Homo sapiens: one gene and its partners. The protein of the gene in region 1 purifies or fractionates together with the protein of each later gene. This does not show direct contact. Each region holds a gene or a part of one and is shown in the gene's direction. Other genes may lie near its edges. The genes, in order: HDAC3, CCT2, STAT3, PRAM1, SKI, RB1 and SMARCA4.

Region 1 (3,234 bases):
GGCAATGGAGAGAAGTAGATGATCTGAGAGGTGTGTGTGTGTGTGTGTGTATATATATATATATACACACACACACACACATATATATGTTTTTTTTTTTCTTTTTTGAGATGGAGTCTTGCTCTGTCACCCAGGCTGGAGTGCAGTGGCACGATCTTGGCTCAGTGCAAGCTCTGCCTCCTGGGTTCAAGCATTTCTCCTGCCTCAGCCTCCTGAGTAGCTGGGACTACTACAAAGGCGTGAGCACCGCGCCGGGCGTGAGTTATATTTTCAAGGCTAGAATTGACAGAACTTGGGTTGATGAGAATAGTTGATTAGCAGGCAGGGTGCCAGGGAGGGTGTTGAGCAGAACAGAGGGGGGACTGTGCTTTATTTTAAAATTTTTATTGAGACACAGCATATAAAGTATACCCAAATCTTAAGGGTATAACATAATGAATTTCACTATCAAGATAAAGATTTAGAACATTTATAGTTTTCTTGTGCTCCTTTCAGGCAATACCTAAAGGTATTTACCTTGTCTTTTGATAACCTCCTCCACATCTTCCTCTGGTTCCTTTTAACAGGGAATGCGTTGAATATGTCAAGAGCTTCAATATCCCTCTACTCGTGCTGGGTGGTGGTGGTTATACTGTCCGAAATGTTGCCCGCTGCTGGTGAGCACTCTCCTGATTTCCTCCCCTGTTGTCCAGTGTGAGCTAGGGTGTCCCTCAGATATGGCCACATGGGTCCTTCAGCCCACTTGGTCAGCCTGCTCCCCTCTGCTGGTTGGTTTCAGGACATATGAGACATCGCTGCTGGTAGAAGAGGCCATTAGTGAGGAGCTTCCCTATAGTGGTAAGGACCACCCCACAACACCCCCATAACAGGAAGGCCATTCTCACCAGATTCCAGAATGACCTGGTTTGAAGGCACATGGGAAATTTTACACTCTCAGAGCTCTGCAGACTAAACCCCTGGGCTCAGAGCAGGGAAGAGATTGGGCAGCTATTATGTAGGTGCTCTGGATGGGAAGGAAAAAGATTGGGAAGTCTTGTTAGCTGCCTTTCTCAGTCTGAGCCATACTTTCTCCTCTCCTCCCCAAGAATACTTCGAGTACTTTGCCCCAGACTTCACACTTCATCCAGATGTCAGCACCCGCATCGAGAATCAGAACTCACGCCAGGTCAGCAGCTCAGAAAAGCTGAGCACAAACTTCTCCTGAAAGGTGGAGCCCAGGAGAGGTCAAAGATGTGGGAAGTAGGAAAAACCAAAGAGAAGGAAGTTCTAAGCCATCACAGTCACTGTTATTGACTAGGAGGCAGTCCAGTTTAAAGTAGAGGCAGTTGGGGTTGGTGGGGAGGGAGAGCTATCAGTTGGGGGACCTGAACTAGAGGTACCACTGAGATGAAAACCAGTATGGTAGGGGTAAAAGGCAGCTAGGAGATTCCATGTCCTGGGAATCTCTGGAAACTGCTCACTCTGTATTCCTCATTTCCAACCAGTATCTGGACCAGATCCGCCAGACAATCTTTGAAAACCTGAAGATGCTGAACCATGCACCTAGTGTCCAGATTCATGACGTGCCTGCAGACCTCCTGACCTATGACAGGACTGATGAGGCTGATGCAGAGGAGAGGGGTCCTGAGGAGAACTATAGCAGGTCTGGGAGCAGGGACTTCAGCCTACTTTCAATAGGCTTGCTGGGGAGGTTTAAAAGGGAAAAAGTAAATGGGAAGGTATTAGTTTAATTGCCTCTGGCTTACCTCCTTTAGTCTGCTACAATTTCCTCACTCTTTTCTTTGTTATTTTTAATGACAAAAGTAACACGTATTTATTGCAAAATTTTAAAACAGCACCAAAATATGGTGTTGGCGTTCACACAATCCCAGACCTATTCCACAGGAGTAACCACTGTTAATAGTTTTTATTGTTTTGGATAGACCTTTTTCTATAGATTGCAAATATACTATTCTGTATGTACATATAAACAAACACATATACACTCATTTACAGTTTGTGTGGTTTTTGGTTTTTCGTAAATACAAATAGGGTCATTCTACGTATGCTGCTTTACATCATATAGCTGTTTTCAGCTAGCTAATATAGATCTGCTTCAGTATTTTATCAGCTGTATAATAATTTACTATGTGGATAGATTATTTTCCATTTTTTTGGTATTACAATAATAATGTGGCAATGAACCCCCTTACATTATACATCTTTGCATTCTTGTTTGAGTGGGTTAGATAGTAGAATGGTTGCTGCTAGGTCAAAGGCTGTGTGCATTAATTTTTTTTTTTTTTTTTTTTTTGAGACAGGGTCTCATTCTGTCACCCAGGCTGGAGTACAGTGGCATGATTATAGCTCACTGCAATCTTGAACTCCTGGGTTCAAGCGATCCTCCTGCCTCAGCCCCTCGAGTAGCTGGAATCATAGGTGTGCACCACGACACCTGGCTAATTTTTTTTTTTTTTTTTTTTTTTTTTTTTTTTTTTGGTAGAGACGGAGTCTTGCCTTGTTGCCCAGGCTGGTCTCAAACTCCTGGGCTCAAATGTCCTCCTGCCCCAGCCTTCCAAAGTGCTGGGATTATAGGCGTGAGCCACTGAGCCTGGCCTAAAATTTTTTATATTTGCTGCCAAATTGCCGTCCAGAAAGTCTGTAGCACCCTATAGTCTTGCCAGCATTTTTCTCAGTCTTTCCAGGTCTTGAGCTGGACAGGTCACTGCCTGCGTAATACTCTCTAAGGCTCTTTGATTTCTTTGCTCTGTTAATTTTTTCGGGTGGGATAATTGCATTGTGGTTATGTTTTTTTTTTTTTTTTAAAAGTCTTTATCTTTCTGAGATACATACAAAATATTTGTAGATGGAATGAATTAGGGGGGAAAAAGGATAGGATGGAATTTTTTTTTAATCCCAAAACTTTGCTGAAAAATGAAAGGGAAAGACAACAGAACCAAGAAGTGCAGAAACAGATGCACTTAATGGGGAACAGATTTCCTTACATGACTGAGGGATAACCACAGCTGGACACTTGTGGGACACGCTGTCTTGCTCCCACGCAGGGTTAGAGGTTTGAGCCGGCTCTGCTGCAGAGCCTGATGGGCTTCTCAGCCCCTTCTAGAATCTGCTTCTGTCTTAGAATTCAGGCCTCCGAATCTCTCCTCTGGACCTGGGCTTTACTGCTCTGACTCTTGGGGATCTCTGCAACTCTCTTCCTCCAAGGATATCCCCCGATCCCTTCTGAGTGAGGAA
Region 2 (3,500 bases), on another chromosome or scaffold:
TATCATCAAAATATACAAATAAAGCAAATAGTATAATACTGTATAGAGAATTTGTTAGCCTCTTTTTAACCTAGTTAAATATTAAGCACATTTTTGGATGTCAATTTTCTGTGCAGTATTTTAATAGAGTTACACATTTGAATATTTGGCTAGAATGACTGTATTAACCTATCTGTAGGGGGAGATTTGTGTATTTGATGATTTTTAGCATTATAAAATAACTTTGTGACGTTGCGACATAGCCCAAAGGTTTCTAGAAGTGTAATTGTTGGGTCCAAAGGTAAGTGTGTGTGTTTTAAGGCACCCCCAAACCTGGGCTGCACAGCAGGTGAGCAGCAGGTGGAAAAATTGTCTTCCCATGAAACCAGTCCCTGGTGCCAAAAAGGTCCGGGACCACTGTTTTAAGGCACTTCTATTTATTTGCCCATTCACAACTGTATAATAATACTTGTTTTTCACGTCCTTTTATTTATTTATTTATTTTGAGACGGAGTCTCGCTCTTAGAGTTGCCCAGAATGGAGTGCAGTGGCACGACTTCGGCTGACTGCAACCTCTGCCTCCCGGGTTCAAGCGATTCTCTTGCCTCAGCCTCCCAAGTAGCAGGGACTACAGGCATGTGCCATCATAGCCAGCTAATTTTGTATTTTTAGTGTAGATGGGGTTTCACCATGTTGCTCAGGCTGGTCTTGAACTGACCTCAAGTGATCCATCCTCCTCAGTCTCCCAAAGTGCTAGGATTACAGGCGTGAGCCACTGTGCCCGGCCATTTCTCACATTCTTGCCAACATTAGACTTTTGCATGCTTGTGTGGCCCCCACCCCTCTTTTTTTTTTGGCATTTTGCCAGTTTGGTGGGGAAAATAACATCTTTAATTTGTGTTTCTTGATTACTGCTGAGGTTTAATTCTTTTCATATAGCTTACAGACTTGATCAGTTAGGGTAAAATTATCTATTGACATGAATATCTAGATAAATTTTGAAAAGTAAAGTAGGGTTAATATGTATATTTGGTTGGTTTTATTTAGTTCCGATGAAGTTAAATTCCGTCAAGATTTAATGAATATTGCGGGCACAACATTATCCTCAAAACTTCTTACTCATCACAAAGACCACTTTACAAAGTTAGCTGTAGAAGCAGTTCTCAGACTGAAAGGCTCTGGCAACCTGGAGGCAATTCATATTATCAAGAAGCTAGGAGGAAGTTTGGCAGATTCCTATTTAGATGAAGGTATGTATGAATGTCAGATACAAGAAGCTTTGATTAGATGCTGAGGGCTGAATACTGAGTGAATTCTGTTTTGAGACCAGTGACCCTTTACAAAGCCAGTGAACTTGAATTTAAGGACATATCATATGTGCAACCATTTTTGTCATTTTATTGACAGTGTACTCCTCTTCCCGCGCTATTCCAGCATTGTTGATGATCTCTAGAGTTTACTTAACTACCATGAAGTTATTTGCAGTCTCTGATAAAGAGGAAATGTTTTCTTTTACTAGAAATCATCTATTCTCAAATGGTACTTTTACCAGGATTATATGTATTCTCCAGGAAGGGTCTGGGTCAGTCAAATCATTGTGTTAGCTGGTTGTTGAGGATGTACAGTTGACCATTGAACAACATGGGTTTGAATTATGTAGGTTCACAATGCAGGTTTTTTCAATAAATATAGTCAGCCCTTTGTGTCCGTGGTTTGCACATGTGCAACCGAACGTGGATGGAAAATGCAGTATTTGCAGGATTTGAAACCCATGTATATAGTGGGCCAGCTTTTCAAATCTGCTGGTTCCAGTCAGCCTGGAACTTAAGTATGTGGGGATTTTGGTGTATGTGGGCGTCTTGGAACCAGTCCCCTTCGTATACTGGGGGATGACTAGTTTTTTTTAGAAAAGAATTAAAAAAAATTTCTTTAACAAATAATTATGTATGTTTATAGGGCAAGAGGATCTAGTTCTTAAAGAGTGATAAATGAGACATAATAAGTACTGCTTTCTTAGTAGTACATTTTTGTTTAGAGTGAAGTTTTCCAGATCATCTTCACATTATATTTACTTCACAAAATGGCCTGTCAAAAAGTATAGGCATTCTTATATAGAGAAGGAAAAAAAAAGAATTAGATGGTGCTTTACAACTTCTGTTTTTACCAGTGGTTTGGAGTCCTGGTTTTGTTCTGTGTCATAGGTCTTGATTTATTTTAAGAGAGAGTCATAATTCTGAAAATACTCTTGATTAAGTTTATATACAAGAGCTGTGTAGCATTTCTTTTTTTTTTTTTTTGAGACGGAGTCTGGCTGTGTCACCCAGGCTGGAGTGCAGCAGTATGATCTCGCCTCACTGCAACCACTGCCTCCTGAGTTAAGGCGATTCTCCTGCCTCAGCCTCCTGAGTAGGTGGGATTACAGGCGTGTGCCACCATGCCTGGCTAACTTTTTTGTATTTTTAGTAGAGACGGGGTATCGCCATGTTGACCAGGCTGGTCTCGAACTCCTGACCTAAGGGGATCCACCTGCCTCAGCCTCCCAAAGTACTGGGATTACAGGCGTGAGCCACCATGCCTGGCCGCTGCGTAGCATTTCTGATAGGGGCTGGTGGTAGGGAAGGAGCATTAAAACAAGAATATTAGTAGCACAAGCAGCACCATTCTTGAATGTCTGCTCTGTACTAGGAATTGTAATAGGAACTTTAGTCATTTAGTCATCATGACCTGGTGAGTGAGGATTAGGTTCACTTGAATAGAGTAGAAAACCCAAGATAATGGTGGCTTCATAATGGAAAAGTTTCTAATGTAACCAAAAAAAGGCCTAGAAAGGTAGGTGGTACTGGGTTTGTATGATGGTTCCAAAGCAGCAGGACTAGGCTGGTAACTAGCACCTCTGCTACTGGTTACATTCCTGTTTTACAAATTAGCATTTCTGGTTGGATAATTTGTCGAAGGTTATATAGCCAGCAGCAGGGGCATGATCAGGGTCAGATTTATCTGACTCCACGGTGTCCATGGTTTTTCCATTTTTACCACCAGCCTCAATACCTGAATCTTCAATTTTTCTCTTGTGGTGGTGATTTTAAGCTAATAAAAATATAGGACTTAACCTATTGTCTTTATATTGCAACCCATACAGATGTGGGTGTAGCGTATATCTGAAACAAAAGTTTCAAAATACTGTTTAATTTTATTGTCTGTACTGTGCTCTTATATTTTCTGTTTCATATTTTTTAAGTAACCCATTAAATTGATTTTGTAATAACTCTTCTAGTGGGATGCTTTATACCAGAAGTGTCCAAGGAAGAGAATACAGTCATGGGTTCCTAGTTTCTGTTTCTGGTTGGGTCGGTAAAGCCCCTTCCTCCTCCCTCTTTTCTGCTTATCACTAGAGACAGAAACTAAAATCCATGGCTTTCAGGCGCTAAAAGCCTAAAAGCAAAACAACAACAGAATAAGGCAGGTTGGACAAGCTTGCTTTTATGCCTTCTAAGAGCTTGGTAAATTGGACTTAAATAGCT
Region 3 (3,500 bases), on another chromosome or scaffold:
CCTCCTCCCGGGTTCAAGTGATTCTCGCACCTCAGCCTCCTGAGTAGCTGGGATTACAGGTGCCCGCCACTACGCCCGGCTAATTTTTGTATTTTTAGTAGAGATAAGGTTTCACTATATTGACCAGGCTGGTCTCAAACTCCTGACCTCAAGAGATCTGCCCACCTCAGCCTCCCAAAGTGCTGGGATTACAGGCGTGAACCACCTTGCCTGGCCAACATATATATACCTTTTGCAACTTTGTCAGAGTTGCTATGAAGAATAAGTTGTATCTTGTTCACAGAAATTGCAGTCTACTGGGGGAGCTGATAAATGTTTTAACCATCCAATGTAACATGTTGTCATCAAAGAGATGGTGAGACTTTACACTTGTGCTAACAAGGTAGCTGTTCTACATAAAAGAACATACAGTACAGATGTAGAACTTTTCTGTTATCATAGAACGTTCTATTGGACAGTGCTAGGCTGAATGCTACAGATCTTCAGAGAAAGGAGAGGTTATGAGGCCTGGAGTTGTCTAGAAAGTCTTTTTGCCAAAGAGGGATTTCAACTGGGTCCCAAATAATGGGTGGAATTTGATAGGTGTAAAGAATTTGCGGTGGTTTATGCCTGTAATCCCAGCACTTTGGGAGGCTGAGGCAGGAGGATTGCTTGAGCCCAGGAGTTTGAGACCAGCTTGGGCAACGTGGTAAAACTCCCTCTCCCCTAAAAATAAAAAAAATTAGCCAGGCCTGGTGGCGTGGACCTGTAGTCCCAGCTACTGGTGAGACTAAGGTGGGAGGATCACCCAAGCCCCGGGGGTTAAGGCTGCAGTGAGCCGTGATCCCGCCACCGCACTCCAGCCTGGGTGACAGAGTGAGACCCTGTCTCCAAAAAAAAAAAAAATTCCTGGTAGCCCGGTAGACTAGGAGGGTAAGTAGGGGAGAAGTGATTACTTACAAAAGACATTGAATACAGGACCAAGGAATTTCAGTTCTGTTCTTTTGTAGGGGAAGCTTTTAAAACTTTCGGGGCGCCGGGCGCGGTGGCTCACGCCTGTAATCCCAGCACTTTGGGAGGCCCAGACGCGCGGATCACGAGGCCAGGAGATCGAGACCATCCTGGCTAACACGGTGAAACCCCATCTCTACTAAAAATACAAAAAAAAGTAGCCGGGCGTTGTGGCGGGCGTCTGTAGTCCCAGCTACTCGGGAGGCTGAGGCAGGAGAAGAGCGTGAACTCGGGAGGCGGAGCTTGCAGTGAGCCGATATCGCACCACTGCACTCCAGCCTGGGCGACAGAGCGAGACTCCGTCTCAAAAAAAAAAAAAATAAATAAATAAATAAATAAATAAAACTTTGGAGCCGAAGCACTGATGTTTAATCATAGAGTGCTTACTATGTGTTAGGCACAGGCCTGATTGCCTGATGCTGGTTAATTTGTACAAAGTAAATCAGTGCATATGCCCTCTGCCCTAGGGGAGTTATTAACTGGAGTCTGACATTGTACAAAGGTAGGTATCCTGACTAGTTTGATTTGGTACTTTGGGTGAAAAAAGTATAGTGTGCTTAAGTGCAGAAGTGTTTTTTGAGGATTTTTGATTGGATACAAACCACCACTCATATTTTATGTCTTTGGCACTTAAAAATTTCACCATAACTTTTGAGTCATTTATAAAAACCACTGAAAGAGTACTTGAGGGACATCCCCGAATCCTGAAGAACTTCTGGTGTTCTGGAGCAGCCTCAGTGAGATCCAGGAGGATGGCATTGCTGGGCTGGCCCAGCCCTTATTGATTATGGTGTAAAGAATTAATATGGTGGTTATATACTCTTTGTTAGACACCTTGGCTTACAAGACGTAAGCGTAAAGTGTAGTGCGCTTTAGTCAGTATGGCCACATGGTCCTTTGGTGGTAAATTGTTTGAGATGCCTCCAGTTTTTAAAAGGAGTAGCATATCGGGCCAGGAGCAGTGGCTCATGCCTATAATCCCAGCACTTTGGAAGGCCGAGGCAAGAGGATTGCTTGAGCCCAGGAGTTCAAGACCAGCCTGGGCAACATAGTGAGACCACTTTGTTTCTTTAAAAAAAAAAAAAAGGCAAAAACAGGCTGGGCATGGTGGCTGATGCCTGTAATCCCAGCGCTTTGTGAGGCAGAGGTGAGCGGATCACTTGAGGTCAGGAGTTTGAGACCAGCCTGGCCAACATGGTAAAACCCCGTCTCTACTAAAAATACAAAAATTAGCCAGGTGTGGTGGCACACGCCTGTAGTTCCAGCTACTCTGGAGGCTGAGCCAGGAGAATTGCTTGAACCTGGGAGGTGGAGGCTGCAGTGAGCCAAGATCCTGCCACTGCACTCCAGACTGGGGGACAGAGTGAGACATTCTGACAGTGCTACACTGAATGCTACATGTCTTCAGAGGAAGGAGAGGTTATGAGGCCTGGGAATAACATATGGAAGAATGAATTTCTGTTATGGTCAGTTCTCATTTGTCATGTTAGGATTACTGCAACTCTTACCCAGCCGGGTGTGGTGGCTCATGCCTGTAATTCCAGCACTTTGGGAGGCTGTGGGCGGATCACGAGGTCAGGAGATCGAGACCATCCTGGCTAACACGGTGAAACTCCGCCTCTACTAAAAATACAAAAAATTAGCCCAGCGTGGTGGCAGACGCCTGTAGTCCCAGCTACTCAGGAGGCTGAGGCAGGAGAATGGCATGAGTCCTGGAGGCGGAGCTTGCAGTGAGCTGAGATCGTGCCACTGCACTCCAGCCTGGGCAACAGAGTGGGACTCCATCTCAAAAAAAAAAGAAAAAAAAAAGGATTACCGCAACTCTTTAATTCAGATCAGCAAACATGTTGAGAGCCAGGTATTGCGTCAGGCAGGATCCAAGGATAATGAAATATTGTCCGTTTTCATGAAACTGGAGATGTTGCAGGGACCGAGGTGTGTGCTATGCCAGTATGGAAGTAGGACAGGGGAGACGACAGGGCAGTGAGTGGTTCAAGACTCTGGCTCTGAAGTCAAACAGATCTGGGACTGAATCCTGGATCTGCCACTTCCTAGTCAGAATCTGAGCCTCTATTTTCTTATCTGTAAAAGAAGATTATAACAGTGCTTATCTTGTAGGTACTGTTGACGATTCAATAAGATAATGTGGATAAAATGCTTAGCATAGTGCCTGGCACATAGTAAGAGCTCGGTAAATCTAAGTTCTTACTAAATATCCAAGAAAAGAGATTAATTCTTTTCAGGAGTGAGAGAAAGTCATCATTATTGAGGGGCTTTATCAGATGGGAACACCTGAATAGGGTTTTATAGGATGAATAGGAATTCTTTCCACGAAGTTGCGTTACAAAAAGTTGCATTCAAGGCTGAAGGAACATGAGGGTGCAGAGGCTTAAAACAGCCTTGTGTGTTCAGGGAGCTATAAGTAGAAGTTCTTAATTTAGGAGAACTAAACCAAGGGGAAAGGAGGCCAAGGAACCACAGTTCTTATCCCTTTTCTGTTAATAATTGGG
Region 4 (3,085 bases), on another chromosome or scaffold:
TTGTACCCATGGGCCAGCCTCTCCTCATCCTCCCTTCTGCCTTAGTTTTTCACCCAAATCTCATTACAGTAGAACCCCAGAACCTACCGGGTGCAGTGGCTCAGGCCTGTAATCCCAGCACTTTGGGAGGCTGAGGCAGGGGCATCACCTGAGGTCAGGAGTTAGAGACCAGCCTGGCCAACATGACGAAACCTCATCTGTACTAAAAATACAAAAATCAGCTGGGTGTGGCAGTGGGTGCTTATAATCCCAGCTACTCAGGATGCTGAGGCAGGAGAATCGCTTGAACCCAGGAGGCAGAGGTTGCAGTGAGCTGAGATCATGCCATTGCACTCCAGCCTGGGCAACAAGAATGAAACTCCGTCTCAAAAACAAAAACAAAAACAAAAGAAACAAAAAAAAAAACGGCTAGGCACGGTGGCTCACGCCTATAATCCCAGCACTTTGGGAGGCCGAGGCGGGTGGATCACCTGAGGTCAGGAGTTTGAGACCAGCCTGGCCAACATGGTGAAACCCGTCTCTACTAAAAATAAAAAAAAAAATTAGCCGGGTGTGGTGGCATGTGCCTGTAATCCCACCTACTTGGGAGGTTGAGGGAGGAGAATCGCTTGAACCCAGGAGGTGGAGGTTGCAGTGAGCTGAGATCGCGCCATTGCACACTCTAGCCTGGGCAACAAGAGCAAAACTCCGTCTCAAAAAATAAAAAAGAACCCTAGACCCAACTTGCTCTAGGAGGCAGAAGTGAAATGGCCTCGAAGCCTACAGATAAATCCTGCCTTTACCATTTACCAGCTGGGTGACCTTGGGCAGTTTGCTTGACCTCTCTGAGCCTTTATTTCCTTGTGGACAAGTTGGGCATGACAGTGGCGTCTACTGGCATGAACAAGGTTGCTGAGAGGGCTGCCATGAGGGGCGTGGCCCAGCAGTTCCCACCATGCTGAGCACGTGGCAGGAGTTAAGGGAATGGAAGGCAATCCAGAAGAACCCATGACCCCTGAGAAAGGCTTGCGGAAGAAGGTGGGCAGGGAGAGGTTTGGGAGGGGACCTGGTGGGATTTGGGGAGTCCTCAGAACTGACACAGGGAGGCCTTACTCAAGATCCAGCCACCTGCCAGGCGCAGTGGCTCACGCCTGTAATCCCAGCACTTTAGGAGGCCGAGGCGAGTGGATTGCCTGAGGTCAGGAGTTCAAGACCAGCCTGGCCCACATGGTGAAACCTGTCTGTGTTAAAAATACAAAAATCAGCCAGGTGTGGTGATGGACACCTGTAATCCCAGCTACTCGGGAGCCTGAGGTAGGAGAATCGCTTGAACCCAGGAGGCGAAGGTTGCAGTGAGCCGAGATTGTGCCATTGCACTCCAGCCTGGGTGACAGAGCAAGACTTCGTCTCAAAACAAAAACACAAAAACAAACAAAAAACAGCTACCAGGGTAAAGGCTGAGCCGGCGGGCCCTGCCTTGACTCGGAGTCCTGACTGTCCCCAGATGAAGCGCCCTCAGTTCAGCAAGCCGCCAGGAGGCCACCACAAGACCCAGCGCTCAGGTGCCATGGGCAGAGGGGGTGGGCAGACGGGGGGCGAGCTCCAGGAACCCCCAGAGGAGCACAACTTGCTCACGAGCACACAATTCCTTGGTGGGGGCTATCAGGAAGGAGAAGGATCCCCAGCCACAGCAGTTGCCACCCATGGACCCAAAGTTGCTGAAGCAGCTGAGGAAGGCAGAGAAGGCCGAGAGGGAGTTCCGGAAGAAGTTCAAGGTGAGGCCTCTGAGCTAAGCAGGAGTCCTGGCAGGGCGGAGACCAGGGTCCCACCGATCCCAGGCTCAGAAAGAAGACAGGGGCCCAAGGGCGGCAGCACAAGCAGAGGCCCTAACATCTCGCGCCCCAGTTTGAAGGGGAGATCGTGGTTCACACGAAGATGATGATCGACCCCAACGCTAAGACACGTCGCGGGGGTGGCAAGCACCTCGGGATCCGGCGCGGGGAGATCCTGGAGGTGATCGAGTTCACCAGCAATGAGGAGATGCTGTGCCGGGACCCCAAAGGCAAATGTGAGTGCGCCCGGCCCCGCAGCCCCGGGAGGTCCCCGCCGCCACCCTGGGCCTCAGAACCCACCATGCCCACTCTCTCCACAGATGGCTACGTGCCCAGAACAGCGCTCCTGCCCCTGTGAGTGCCAGCCCTGACCGTGGTGGGGGAGTGCGGGGTGTGTGGTGCAGGGTGGGGGGAATGGGCCACGGTGCCCCTTGCTGACCCAACTGTGCTCTGCCAGGGAGACGGAGGTGTACGATGATGTCGACTTCTGCGGTACGTGGACACTCTGGGAGGGCTGGAGGGACCCTGGCGATTCCCCGGGGGCGCTGCTCACTATTGGGCTTCTGGGGAGAGGGGTCCATGGAAGTCACGCTTCCTCGGCAGATCCCCTGGAAAACCAACCACTCCCCCTGGGACGGTAAGACCGGTAGGCGTGGGGCCAGGACAGCCAGCCAGCCCAGCGCCCGCTCACCCAGGAGCCCTGGATCCCGGCGCGGGAAAGTCACAGAGCTGCCTGGGCTTGTACCTGGCCACATAAAGCCCCAGTTTAAAGCAGTCCCTGCTTCTTGTCTTTTCTTTCCCTCCTGATTGGCACACAGTGGAGCAAAGGCACGGGAACCCCCTGACCAAACACAAAAGGGGGTGTGTCTGGGGTCACCCTGCCATGGTCTCACCCCTCAGGGATAAAAGCCAGTGGGGAGAAAAGGGTGGCAAGAAGCTGGTGAGCAAGGGGGGCTCCGGGTGATCAGAACAGCATGTGCTACCAGGCAGGCAGCCGGGCAGGACGCGCCCCTCCACAGCCAACAGAACAGCAGCAGCCAGGCCTCCTTGCCAGGTATGCACACCTGCTTGGCCTGAGTGGATCCTGAGAGCGCTTCACTGGGGGAAGGGGTGGGGCCTATACCCAATTCTGACAGAGCCCAGGTATCAATCAGATTTGGCCTGAGCCTCTGGCAGGACTGAACACGCATGGAAGGTGGCACACAGTTTGGTCTGTTTCAGCAGGAAAAAAAAAAAGCCAGAGAACAAGCCTGACTCAGGCAGGGCCTGTGCCC
Region 5 (3,500 bases), on another chromosome or scaffold:
CTTTTTTCCTGAACAGCTATTTTAGTGTCTCTGAAAAAAACCATCCACAGCCGTGAGCCTTCAGGGGCTGCCTGCCCTGCGTCCCCGGCCCTGTGCGCCCGAGCACTTATCTTTCTCCCTTGGGCCCAGGTCAGAGCCAGGCACCTGCCCCTCCCCTGGCCCCACCCTGCTTGTTCCCTGAGGGCTGCAGGGTGGGTGCACGTGCTGCAGGGGAGGCCACGGGCTTTGGCCAGATCTTCCCCCAGGGCCCTCCATCCCCATAATTGGAGCACCTTGATGGACAGCCTGCCCTGCGCCCCATCTTCCCCCTAGGGAAGCAGGGTCCCTGCTGCCTCCAGGAGGCTGGTTCCTGATGCAGCGTCTTCTCCTAGAGTCCTGGAGGTGGGAAGAGCCCCCGGCCCTGAGTGTGCTCTGTCCACCAAGGCTTCCTGGCTGAGGGCAAGGGCGGAGCCCCCACCGCCCGACTTTGCTGCCTCCTCTTGAGGTTGGCCTCGGCAGAGTGAGTGGGACCTCACCCCTGTGAAGGGCCCCTTGCCCTGTGTGGCCTGTTCTGCATTGGCCTGTGGTGTAGACCTGGTGCCAGCTGCCCTGGAGACTCTGTGCTGTCCTGTGGGGTCTTTGGCAGTAGAGGAATGGCCCATTTTACGGAGACTGCCCTGTGATTTTGCTTGGGAAGAGACCTTGGGTCTCAGTTGTGCCTTGCGGGCAGCACCGTCTCAGGGGTTTCCAGCCGCAGGGCTGTGGGAGTTCACGTTTGCCTGAGGCTGGATGTACCGGCTCAGGCCCCCAGCACACAACCCACATCACTCACTGGCTCTTGGGGGATGTGCCTCAGCACCTGACACACAACACCTGGTTCTGAGTGGGCTGGGTCCAGGCACCTTCGCTAAGCTTCCTCCACCAGCGGGACCTGGTTCTGGGTGGGCTGGGTCTGGGCACCTTCGCTAAGCTTCCTCCAGCACCGGGGCTGGCAAGGAGCGAGGCAAAGGTGTGTGTGGTGCCATCCTGTAGGAGCCAGGCTCCTTGGGGATGGTGTCCTTCATTTTGAAAATGTTTCCTTCCCATGGGGAGGGGGCAGCCAGAATGCCCACTCTTTAATGCACCTGTGCCAGTGGCCCACAGGGACACGGTGTCCCCTCCCCGCGACCACCCCTGTGCCGCAGCTGCCCTTCCCAGACGCATCCGTCGTGAGTGGCTCTCGCCGTGCTGTGGCTGGTTGAGCTGAGTGCCCAGCGCTGGGCACCCTCTGAGGACACACTCGGGTTCTAGGAAAGGGGTTTGGCAGGAGAAGGACGAGGGACTCCTGGCCAGGCTGAGCCGCTGTGGAAGGGGAGAGTGGGTCTTGGTGCTCCATCCCAAACCTGCTGCAGCCGTGGGTGAGGTCACCCGGAATGGCAGGACAAGGTCCACTCTGTTCTCTCGGAGATGACTTGTCCCTCAGCACAGCCTCCACGTGCCTGTTGCGCGTGGCCTAAGGGCCTTTATGCAAAGTGAACTTGGTCTCCTGGGGGGTGCCCTGGAATCTGCCTTCTGCGCCACTCAGGGTCGTTTGTGGCCGGAGTGCATGGGGCTCTGACTGCCATGTGCCAGCCACGGGGCTGGTGGAGGGACCCTGCCCTGGGAACCACAGGTGCCAACAAAACCTTTCATTGATCGCAGGTCTCCTCTGAGCCTCCGGCCTCCATAAGACCCAAAACAGATGACACCTCTTCCCAGTCCCCCGCGCCTTCCGAAAAGGACAAGCCGTCCAGCTGGCTGCGGACCTTGGCCGGCTCTTCCAATAAGGTGCTGTGGGGCCTGTCGGGGTCCTTGGGGTGGTGGGTACTGGGCCCTTCTCCTTGGGCAGACCCAGCGGCTGGCAGCTCCACCTGCCCGCTACTGAGGGCTGGCACCCGGCGCAGCCTCAGGGACATGAAGTGGCTTGTTTTTCTCCTGGTCACTCACACAGACAACTCTTTCTCGACAGAGCCTGGGCTGTGTTCACCCTCGCCAGCGCCTCTCTGCTTTCCGACCCTGGTCCCCCGCAGTGTCAGCGAGTGAGAAAGAGCTCTCCCCACACCTCCCGGCCCTCATCCGAGACAGGTGAGTGGGCGCCATTCACAGGTGTTTCTGATCACGGGGGAGGCTCCACGAGGGCTGTGCATGCGGACGCGCCCATGTTTCTGCAGGCTGGGTGCCCAGACCTGCCGCCTTTTGGTCAGGGCAGTCTCGGTGTTGGTTCCTTTGGCTGGCATCAGGGAGAGCACACCTAGAGCGTTCCCTGTGTTCTGGGTGGAGTCGTGGGTGGAGCCCTGTCTGCTGGGCGCAGCTTCTTGATGTGTTGGCCTGTGTCTGGCCTTCGCAAGAGACCCAGCAAGCAGAAAACGCTTACGGGTTCTTAGGGAACTGTAAGCTTGACTTGAAGATTCGGAGCTGGGAAAGTCTTTCCTGTTTAACACCTTCAGAGGGGGTGTGCGCCAGGATGTGTCTGGGTGGTGCTTGGGGACAGAGGCACCTTCCCGACACCCGCCTGCCCCTCCAGCTTCTACTCCTACAAGAGCTTTGAGACAGCCGTGGCGCCCAACGTGGCCCTCGCACCGCCGGCCCAGCAGAAGGTTGTGAGCAGCCCTCCGTGTGCCGCCGCCGTCTCCCGGGCCCCCGAGCCTCTCGCCACTTGCACCCAGCCTCGGAAGCGGAAGCTGACTGTGGACACCCCAGGAGCCCCAGAGACGCTGGCGCCCGTGGCTGCCCCAGAGGAGGACAAGGACTCGGAGGCGGAGGTGGAAGTTGAAAGCAGGGAGGAATGTACGTGTGAGTCGCTTTCTGTGCCTCCTCCCTGTGGGCTGTGGGGGTGGCACTGGCTGAGGGGGGCTGGTCGCCGGGGGTGCGTTGGTGGCCCCATGTTTCGCAGGTTCCTCCGGGAGCGGCGCGTCTCCCTGGTGTGGAGCTGCCGGGCACTTCCATGACTTTGTTTCTGTCTCTGCTTCCTCCTCAGTCACCTCCTCCTTGTCCTCGCTCTCTTCCCCGTCCTTTACCTCATCCAGCTCCGCCAAGGACCTGGGCTCCCCGGGTGCGCGTGCCCTGCCCTCGGCCGTCCCTGATGCTGCGGCCCCTGCCGACGCCCCCAGTGGGCTGGAGGCGGAGCTGGAGCACCTGCGGCAGGCACTGGAGGGCGGCCTGGACACCAAGGAAGCCAAAGAGAAGTTCCTGCATGAGGTGGTCAAGATGCGCGTGAAGCAGGAGGAGAAGCTCAGCGCAGCCCTGCAGGCCAAGCGCAGCCTCCACCAGGTGAGCGGGGCGAGTGGTGCTGGGAGGTCCAGGGCACGGGCAGTGAGCACAGCCTGCACCAGGTGAACGGGCACAGGTGGTGCCTCCTCCCTTCCTGGCTGCCCCATGCGCTCCTCTCTGCCTCCACCTCAGTGGGCCTGCCTGGGACCTTGGGGGTCCGTCTCCCAAAAGCTGCAGCCCTGGGTATGGTGAGCCCCTCAGTGTCCCCAGGCTGATGGACATCCCAGGAGGCC
Region 6 (3,500 bases), on another chromosome or scaffold:
AAGGATTATAGTTTTAATATAAATCTTAAGAGTAATTTTACTTTTTCTCCAATATTTCACATAATATAGCCAATCAATAGATGACTGGTAATTAGTGCCTCAACTAAGGTAGGACAGGAACAATGATTAAACATAAGCATGGATTACTGTTCTATCTAATACATTTATGAAGATTAATGAAAAGTTTGCATTTAATTGGATTTCTTCCTATCACTCCTTTTAAAATGCAATTTTACTTCTCTGAGGTTGGAATCACTTTGGCGTTAAAAGTCACAGTAGAAGGCATGCCAATAGTTTTCTCTTGGGCATTGGTTTTTAAAGTATAATTAAAAAATTATGGATCAGAACTGATGAAAGATTTACAAATTCTAGCAATTGAAAAAGTATCTAAGATTGGGAATAAATTGTGCAAGTGTGTTAATTGAACTGATAAATTGAGCTAATTGTCTTGCCCAAGATACTTAACTGAAGGGTACTGGAGTGAACCAAAGGGTTTAGAAAACATTGGTAGAATATGTAATCAAGAGGATTTGCAACAATGTTTGAAAAAATATTTTATATTGATAAGCATAAAAGATTAAAAGCAGGCTGGGCGCGGTGGCTCACGCCTGTAATTCTAGTACTTTGGGAGGCCGAGGCAGGTGGATCACCTGAGGTCAGGAGTTCAAGACCAGCTTGGCCAACATGGCGAAACCCCGTCTCTACTAAAAATACAAAAATTAGCCGGGCATGGTAGCAGGTACCTATAATCCCAGCTACTCGGGAGGCTGAGGCAGGAAAGTTGCTTGAACCCCGGGGGCAGAGGTGGCAGTGAGCCGAGATTGTGCCACTGCACTCCAGCCTGGGCGAAAGAGCGAAACTCCATCTCAAAAAAAAAAAAAAAAAAAAGATTAAAAGTAAAGCATATATGGGATGTTTGGAAAATCTTGGCAGTTAAACAGTTATTATAATACCTATTTTTATCTTAGGTACTGTTTTGTAGCATTGGCTATCTTTGTCTACATAAAATTCTAATAAATATTTTCTATGCACGAAATAGACCTAAAATCAAAGTTGAACAAATGTTGCAATTTTCTGTACCTCACTTTTAGATAGACCTTATTTATATTGCATGCGAACTCAGTGTATATTACAAAATTAAATGTATATTATACAAAAATTCTTTAATGAAATCTGTGCCTCTGTGTGCTGAGAGATGTAATGACATGTAAAGGATAATTGTCAGTGACTTTTTTCTTTCAAGGTTGAAAATCTTTCTAAACGATACGAAGAAATTTATCTTAAAAATAAAGATCTAGATGCAAGATTATTTTTGGATCATGATAAAACTCTTCAGACTGATTCTATAGACAGGTATTGCACATGGTATATTTGATTGATTTGCTTTAGATATAGGTTGATACTGATATAGGTAGATTATATAGTCTTTAGCTTAGTGACCTTTAGATATCATTTATAACAAATTACTTTCAAATGTCTTTATACAAAGAAAAGTTTAACAGTATTTTAAGCATATAACTTATCTACAAATATAGATTTAATGTGAATTGTGTGTCCTATAACAGTTACCTTTTTGCAGTTAACTGAATATAATTTTTTAAAATGTGCACCAAAAGATAATGGCTAAAGTAATTAGTTTCTTCAAATAGTGGTCTCTACCTTATTTCTATCCTTTCATATACTATTGCCTGCCTGGTTTATTTAAAAAAGTTTATACAAAAGTGTAGTCTCTGTTATTATCATGTAGAAACCTAAAATTGGAATGGTTGAGAGTGATTGTTAAAATTTTTGACTGATCATAAGTAAAGTTAATTTTGTGTCTTTAGCATGAACTCTTTTAATATGAAACTGAAAATATGCGTAATTTAGAAGTTAAACACAGTAAAATGTTTTAAATTTTATTTAAGTGGAAATAAAGTTTTTAGAAGGAATAATGCATTGAAAAACTTGAGTTTTAATGCTTTTTAATACTGAACAACTTGGTTATCAATACCACCAGGGAGAAAGCATCTGACTTTCACTTTTAAAAAAAGACTTAATGATTGGTATACCTCTTTGTCATAAACATAATGGAAAGAGACCCACAATTAAAAAGAGTAGTGAAAAATATTTTATTTAAGCAGCAGCTGGGTCATCTATTTTCTATCCTATCTATTATTGAGTTATCATTTTATATGATTTTATGAGACAACAGAAGCATTATACTGCTTTTTTGATGCATAAAGCACAAATTGTAAATTTTCAGTATGTGAATGACTTCACTTATTGTTATTTAGTTTTGAAACACAGAGAACACCACGAAAAAGTAACCTTGATGAAGAGGTGAATGTAATTCCTCCACACACTCCAGTTAGGTATGAATTTTCCTACTTTTAATTATATTATAATTTTGTTATTCATGGCTTTATAGTGTTTCAGATTTGTTCACGTTTCTTTATGTATTCATACATACATGTAAGAAATATATATTGAAGGCCAGGTGTGGTGGATCACACCTGTAATCCCAGCACTTTGGGAGGCCAAGGCGGGCAGATCACCTGAGGTTAGGAGTTTGAGACCGGCCTGGCCAACATGGTGAAACCCCGTCTCTACTAGAAATACAAAAATTAGCTGGGGGTGGTGGTGTGTGCCTGTAATCCCAGCTGCTCGGGAGGCTGAGGCAGGAGAATTGCTTGAACCCGGGAGGCGGAGGTTGCAGAGAGCTGAGATCGTGCCATTGCACTTCAGCCTGGGTGACAAGAGCGAAACTCCGTCTCAAAAAAAAAATGTGTATATATAATCTTTGTGTGCTGGGCATTTTACTGGTTGCTGAAGATATGGTTATTGGACCTAGTTTTGTCTGTTCTTAAAGAACATAACCTAAAATAGGAATGTGTTCCATTTCAGTAAATAAAAAAGAAAAAATTAAAGTATCACTATTTGATCTGCATGCAACCTTAAAGGATTAGAACTATTTTTTATGTCTTTTTCCTCACTCATTTCCCACATCAAAATCTGTTATCAAGGCTTGTTGAATAATCTACCTCCAAAATATTTCCTGAGTGCATCTACTTTTCTCCATTTCTGCTCTCACAACTCTTGTCCAAGACATTGTTCTCTTTCTCTTGGATTTTTTGCAGTAGCCTACTACCTGATCTTGCTCCTTCTGGTCTCATCATTGTTCCTGTCTCCTCACCATCAAAGATATTCTCCATAGAGCCCCCAGAATTTCTCCTAGAAATGTAAATCAGTTACATTCACCTTGCTGTTAAACCCACTGACTGCTTCCCATTGCAATTGGTATACAGTGCAAATTCCTTAACAATGCCTAAAAGATCTTATATGGTCTGGTTTCTGTTGCCTCTCCAACCTCATCTTGTTTTCTTTCTCACTCTGTGTTAGCCACACTTTGGCCTTCTCTGTTTCTTGGGCTTTCCAAGTTTTTTGAAAACCCTCGTACTTGATATTCCCTCTTCTTGAAATTTCCTCCTTTTCTTTCCATGGATTACCAACTGCTACTC
Region 7 (3,500 bases), on another chromosome or scaffold:
TTGCTTGACCACAGTCTCCCATATGCTCGTGCTCCACTGGGCGACATTTATTTTGTGTACCTGTCTCGAGGCCTAAGTAGGTGTCAGAACCTTGCCTTGGAGTCATGCTGGGGACTGGGGAGATGCGCGTCATCTTCGGGTGGCTGTTCTCGGTGCCCTCGAGCTTCTCTCGGGCAGCGCATAGCTGCGCTGCCACCTCACGTTCCACATGCTGACCCTGCCTTGCCATGGTCCCTCTCGCAGCCCATGGAGTCCATGCATGAGAAGGGCATGTCGGACGACCCGCGCTACAACCAGATGAAAGGAATGGGGATGCGGTCAGGGGGCCATGCTGGGATGGGGCCCCCGCCCAGCCCCATGGACCAGCACTCCCAAGGTACAGAACTGCGTTCCTTCCTGCCTTGTGTTTGTCATACTCCAGAGTCCTCAGATCATTTTCCTCCCCTGGGTTCCCACAGGATGGATTCAGGGAGTACCTAGGATGATGTAGCCGGGTGGGTGGCCCGCCACAGAGAGCTGTCTGGCATGGCGTGGCTGGTGCTCTGTTCTGGCCACCTCGTCTCGGAGCAGCCCTGGAAGGGGAAATGCTGGTTGGGGGGCAGACCATGTTCAGCATGGGTGATAGAGGAGGGCTGTGCAGGGCAGCAGCCCCGTGCCACCCAGGAACTTACTGGAAATACAGATTCCTGGGGCCTGGGACTCTGCTTTAATGAGCCCAGCAGGTGCCTTTTCTGTACGAGGACAATTGAGAAGTGATATGGTGGGTGACTTTCCAAGGCCTTGCTGTCATCAGGGGTGGGAAGCTCAGGGGCTGCACTGGGAATGGAAGTGTTGGGGGTGGGCCTGGCGAGCCCGAGGATGTGGACCCCGCCTGTGGACAGGCAGGCGGAAGCCGGGAGAGAGCCGTGATTTCATGCACAGGTTCTCAGCATTAACCAGAAGCACCTTACTGAGACGTGGGCCAAACCAAATCCACCAGGTCGGCTGCTGGGCTGAGGTGCCTTCAGCATGTGCCCTCCAGGTGCCCCTGGTTGACTCAAGAGAAGGATGCCATTTGGCTGTGCCCTGTCTCAGAGTAGGAGCTGGTGTAGGGGGAAGAGGCTGTAAAAATCACAGACATATGCTGCCGAGTGACCAGTGGGCTGACCTTTCTCTGCAGGTTACCCCTCGCCCCTGGGTGGCTCTGAGCATGCCTCTAGTCCAGTTCCAGCCAGTGGCCCGTCTTCGGGGCCCCAGATGTCTTCCGGGCCAGGAGGTGCCCCGCTGGATGGTGCTGACCCCCAGGCCTTGGGGCAGCAGAACCGGGGCCCAACCCCATTTAACCAGAACCAGCTGCACCAGCTCAGAGCTCAGATCATGGCCTACAAGATGCTGGCCAGGGGGCAGCCCCTCCCCGACCACCTGCAGATGGCGGTGCAGGGCAAGCGGCCGATGCCCGGGATGCAGCAGCAGATGCCAACGCTACCTCCACCCTCGGTGTCCGCAACAGGACCCGGCCCTGGCCCTGGCCCTGGCCCCGGCCCGGGTCCCGGCCCGGCACCTCCAAATTACAGCAGGCCTCATGGTAAGACTGGCTGCCCTGGCCCTCAGGTGTCTCAGAGCGAATGGCTGGGGCGTGGGTGGCGGGGTGGACAGACCGTGCTCTGTTGCCGACTGGGTTCCCCGGTTTGGGATTGCACGGGCCCATACTGCACTTCTGGGTGCTCGGGTGGTGGGGGCAGCTAAATGCTGCTTCCCCAGCTCCCCGCTTCCCCTGGGGCCGCTGGTTAATAGGTGTATCTGCTGTGTCCCCTGGAGCCAGGGCTGCCCACGGGGCTGGGCGCAGGCATAAACCTGGGACGCACTGTTTTCTCTTTTGTTTCTCCCTACATGTAGGTATGGGAGGGCCCAACATGCCTCCCCCAGGACCCTCGGGCGTGCCCCCCGGGATGCCAGGCCAGCCTCCTGGAGGGCCTCCCAAGCCCTGGCCTGAAGGTGAGCTCCCTCTTCTATGGTGGTGCACCCGTGCCCTTACTCCCCATCTCAAGCTTGGGTCCTTGAGATGAGCTTTGTCAGGGAGAAAGGGCCGAGGGTGGTCAGGCTGAACTGCAGCCTGTACTTTTCTTGTGGTGGTCCCCGGGTCTCCCCTGTAGCCAGTCAGTTCCCAAAGGCTGTCGTTCATCCCTCCTCTGACAGCTTGTGGCCTTCACCCAGTCCCTGAGCCCTGTATATGTAATTGCTCAGTAAGTGCTGCAGGCTCCCATCTGTTGGGCTCAAAGAGGCAGTGGGACTCATTACCCATCCTCTTGGAGCCTGAGGTTTAGCGATGGGCATTGAGGGGCAAATTGCTTCCACTGGATTTAGTTGGCACTAGGAGGAGATGACAGGAAATGCTGCCATAGAGCCACAGACAGAACAAAAAGGCCTTGGGAGCCTGGGGCTGGCCCCAGTGGAGGGTGTGAAGGACGAGGGTGAGGCTGAGATCTGGAGGAGGTTGGAGCCCAAGGCAGGTGTGAAGGACACCCCTGGGTGAAAGGTGGGAGATGGGCGGGGTCTGCCTGTCCCCAGTGCCTCAAGCAGCTCAGCAGCTTTCCATTTCCAGCCCGGGATGGGCCCCAGAGCTCAACATGACGCCCTGGCCCCTTGCCTTCTCCCAGGACCCATGGCGAATGCTGCTGCCCCCACGAGCACCCCTCAGAAGCTGATTCCCCCGCAGCCAACGGGCCGCCCTTCCCCCGCGCCCCCTGCCGTCCCACCCGCCGCCTCGCCCGTGATGCCACCGCAGACCCAGTCCCCCGGGCAGCCGGCCCAGCCCGCGCCCATGGTGCCACTGCACCAGAAGCAGAGCCGCATCACCCCCATCCAGAAGCCGCGGGGCCTCGACCCTGTGGAGATCCTGCAGGAGCGCGAGTACAGGTGAGGGCGGGGCCCAGTTGCCAAGGTCACTGCCCTGTGTCCCCCATGTCCCCCTGGGGAAGCCACTCAACTTTCTCCCCCACTCTAGCAAACAGTGCCCTGTGCCCACCACTGCCACTTGGCCTACACCTCCTTCCTCACCTCCCTGCTCCCACCCTGGCTGCGGTCTGTTTCCCACACAGCAGTTTGAGTTCTCTCTCTTTTTTTTTTTTTGAGACGGAGTTTCACTCTTGTTGCCCACGCTGGAGTGCAATGGCACAATCTCGGTTCACTGCAACCTGCATCTCCTGGCTTCAAGCGATTCTTCTGCCTCAGCCTCCTGAGTAGCTGGGATTATAGGCATGCGCCACCACACCTGGCTAATTTTGTATTTATTTTAGTAGAGGCAGGGTTTCTCCATGTTGGTCAGGCTGGTCTCGAGCTCCTGACCTCAGATGCTCCCAAAGTGCTGGGATTACAGGCATGAGCCACCGCACCTGGCATGAATTCTCTTTTTATGATTGATATCAGATCTACTCCGTGGATTAAAACCTGCCTGTAGCTTCAATTATCTGCCCAATAAGCTTTGCCTTATGTCCACTCCTGCCCAGCATCCTTCCTCACCC

The links.
Region 2: the proteins of HDAC3 (region 1) and CCT2 purify together in Homo sapiens (affinity purification with mass spectrometry; 2 studies listed by BioGRID and IntAct, with this or other methods). This does not show direct contact.
Region 3: the proteins of HDAC3 (region 1) and STAT3 purify together in Homo sapiens (affinity purification with western blotting; 4 studies listed by BioGRID). This does not show direct contact.
Region 4: the proteins of HDAC3 (region 1) and PRAM1 purify together in Homo sapiens (affinity purification with western blotting; 2 studies listed by BioGRID). This does not show direct contact.
Region 5: the proteins of HDAC3 (region 1) and SKI purify together in Homo sapiens (affinity purification with western blotting; 4 studies listed by BioGRID and IntAct, with this or other methods). This does not show direct contact.
Region 6: the proteins of HDAC3 (region 1) and RB1 purify together in Homo sapiens (affinity purification with western blotting; 3 studies listed by BioGRID). This does not show direct contact.
Region 7: the proteins of HDAC3 (region 1) and SMARCA4 purify together in Homo sapiens (affinity purification with western blotting, with the first as the bait; 2 studies listed by BioGRID). This does not show direct contact.

What each region holds. Positions count from the first base shown.
Region 1 is NC_000005.10:141,623,616-141,626,849, reverse strand, and holds part of HDAC3 (histone deacetylase 3), read left to right. Parts: intron 1-566; coding exon 567-656; intron 657-778; coding exon 779-837; intron 838-1,085; coding exon 1,086-1,165; intron 1,166-1,484; coding exon 1,485-1,642; coding exon of another isoform or gene 1,643-1,730; exon of another isoform or gene 1,731-1,988; intron 1,989-3,234. UniProt on the Homo sapiens protein: Histone deacetylase that catalyzes the deacetylation of lysine residues on the N-terminal part of the core histones (H2A, H2B, H3 and H4), and some other non-histone substrates.
Region 2 is NC_000012.12:69,588,459-69,591,958, forward strand, and holds part of CCT2 (T-complex protein 1 subunit beta), read left to right. Parts: intron 1-1,026; coding exon 1,027-1,229; intron 1,230-3,500. UniProt on the Homo sapiens protein: Component of the chaperonin-containing T-complex (TRiC), a molecular chaperone complex that assists the folding of actin, tubulin and other proteins upon ATP hydrolysis.
Region 3 is NC_000017.11:42,381,943-42,385,442, reverse strand, and holds part of STAT3 (signal transducer and activator of transcription 3), read left to right. Parts: intron 1-3,500. UniProt on the Homo sapiens protein: Signal transducer and transcription activator that mediates cellular responses to interleukins, KITLG/SCF, LEP and other growth factors. Once activated, recruits coactivators, such as NCOA1 or MED1, to the promoter region of the target gene.
Region 4 is NC_000019.10:8,489,556-8,492,640, reverse strand, and holds the end of PRAM1 (PML-RARA-regulated adapter molecule 1), read left to right. Parts: intron 1-1,483; coding exon 1,484-1,541; intron 1,542-1,645; coding exon 1,646-1,754; intron 1,755-1,884; coding exon 1,885-2,047; intron 2,048-2,131; coding exon 2,132-2,165; intron 2,166-2,268; coding exon 2,269-2,303; coding exon of another isoform or gene 2,304-2,414; coding exon 2,415-2,452; 3' UTR 2,453-2,585; downstream 2,586-3,085. UniProt on the Homo sapiens protein: May be involved in myeloid differentiation. May be involved in integrin signaling in neutrophils. Binds to PtdIns(4)P.
Region 5 is NC_000001.11:2,301,319-2,304,818, forward strand, and holds part of SKI (ski oncogene), read left to right. Parts: intron 1-1,659; coding exon 1,660-1,785; intron 1,786-1,966; coding exon 1,967-2,082; intron 2,083-2,521; coding exon 2,522-2,784; coding exon of another isoform or gene 2,785-2,790; intron 2,791-2,974; coding exon 2,975-3,267; intron 3,268-3,500. UniProt on the Homo sapiens protein: May play a role in terminal differentiation of skeletal muscle cells but not in the determination of cells to the myogenic lineage. Functions as a repressor of TGF-beta signaling.
Region 6 is NC_000013.11:48,366,251-48,369,750, forward strand, and holds part of RB1 (retinoblastoma-associated protein), read left to right. Parts: intron 1-1,243; coding exon 1,244-1,353; intron 1,354-2,276; coding exon 2,277-2,354; intron 2,355-3,500. UniProt on the Homo sapiens protein: Tumor suppressor that is a key regulator of the G1/S transition of the cell cycle. The hypophosphorylated form binds transcription regulators of the E2F family, preventing transcription of E2F-responsive genes.
Region 7 is NC_000019.10:10,985,030-10,988,529, forward strand, and holds part of SMARCA4 (SWI/SNF-related matrix-associated actin-dependent regulator of chromatin subfamily A member 4), read left to right. Parts: intron 1-243; coding exon 244-376; intron 377-1,159; coding exon 1,160-1,564; intron 1,565-1,875; coding exon 1,876-1,974; intron 1,975-2,636; coding exon 2,637-2,895; intron 2,896-3,500. UniProt on the Homo sapiens protein: ATPase involved in transcriptional activation and repression of select genes by chromatin remodeling (alteration of DNA-nucleosome topology).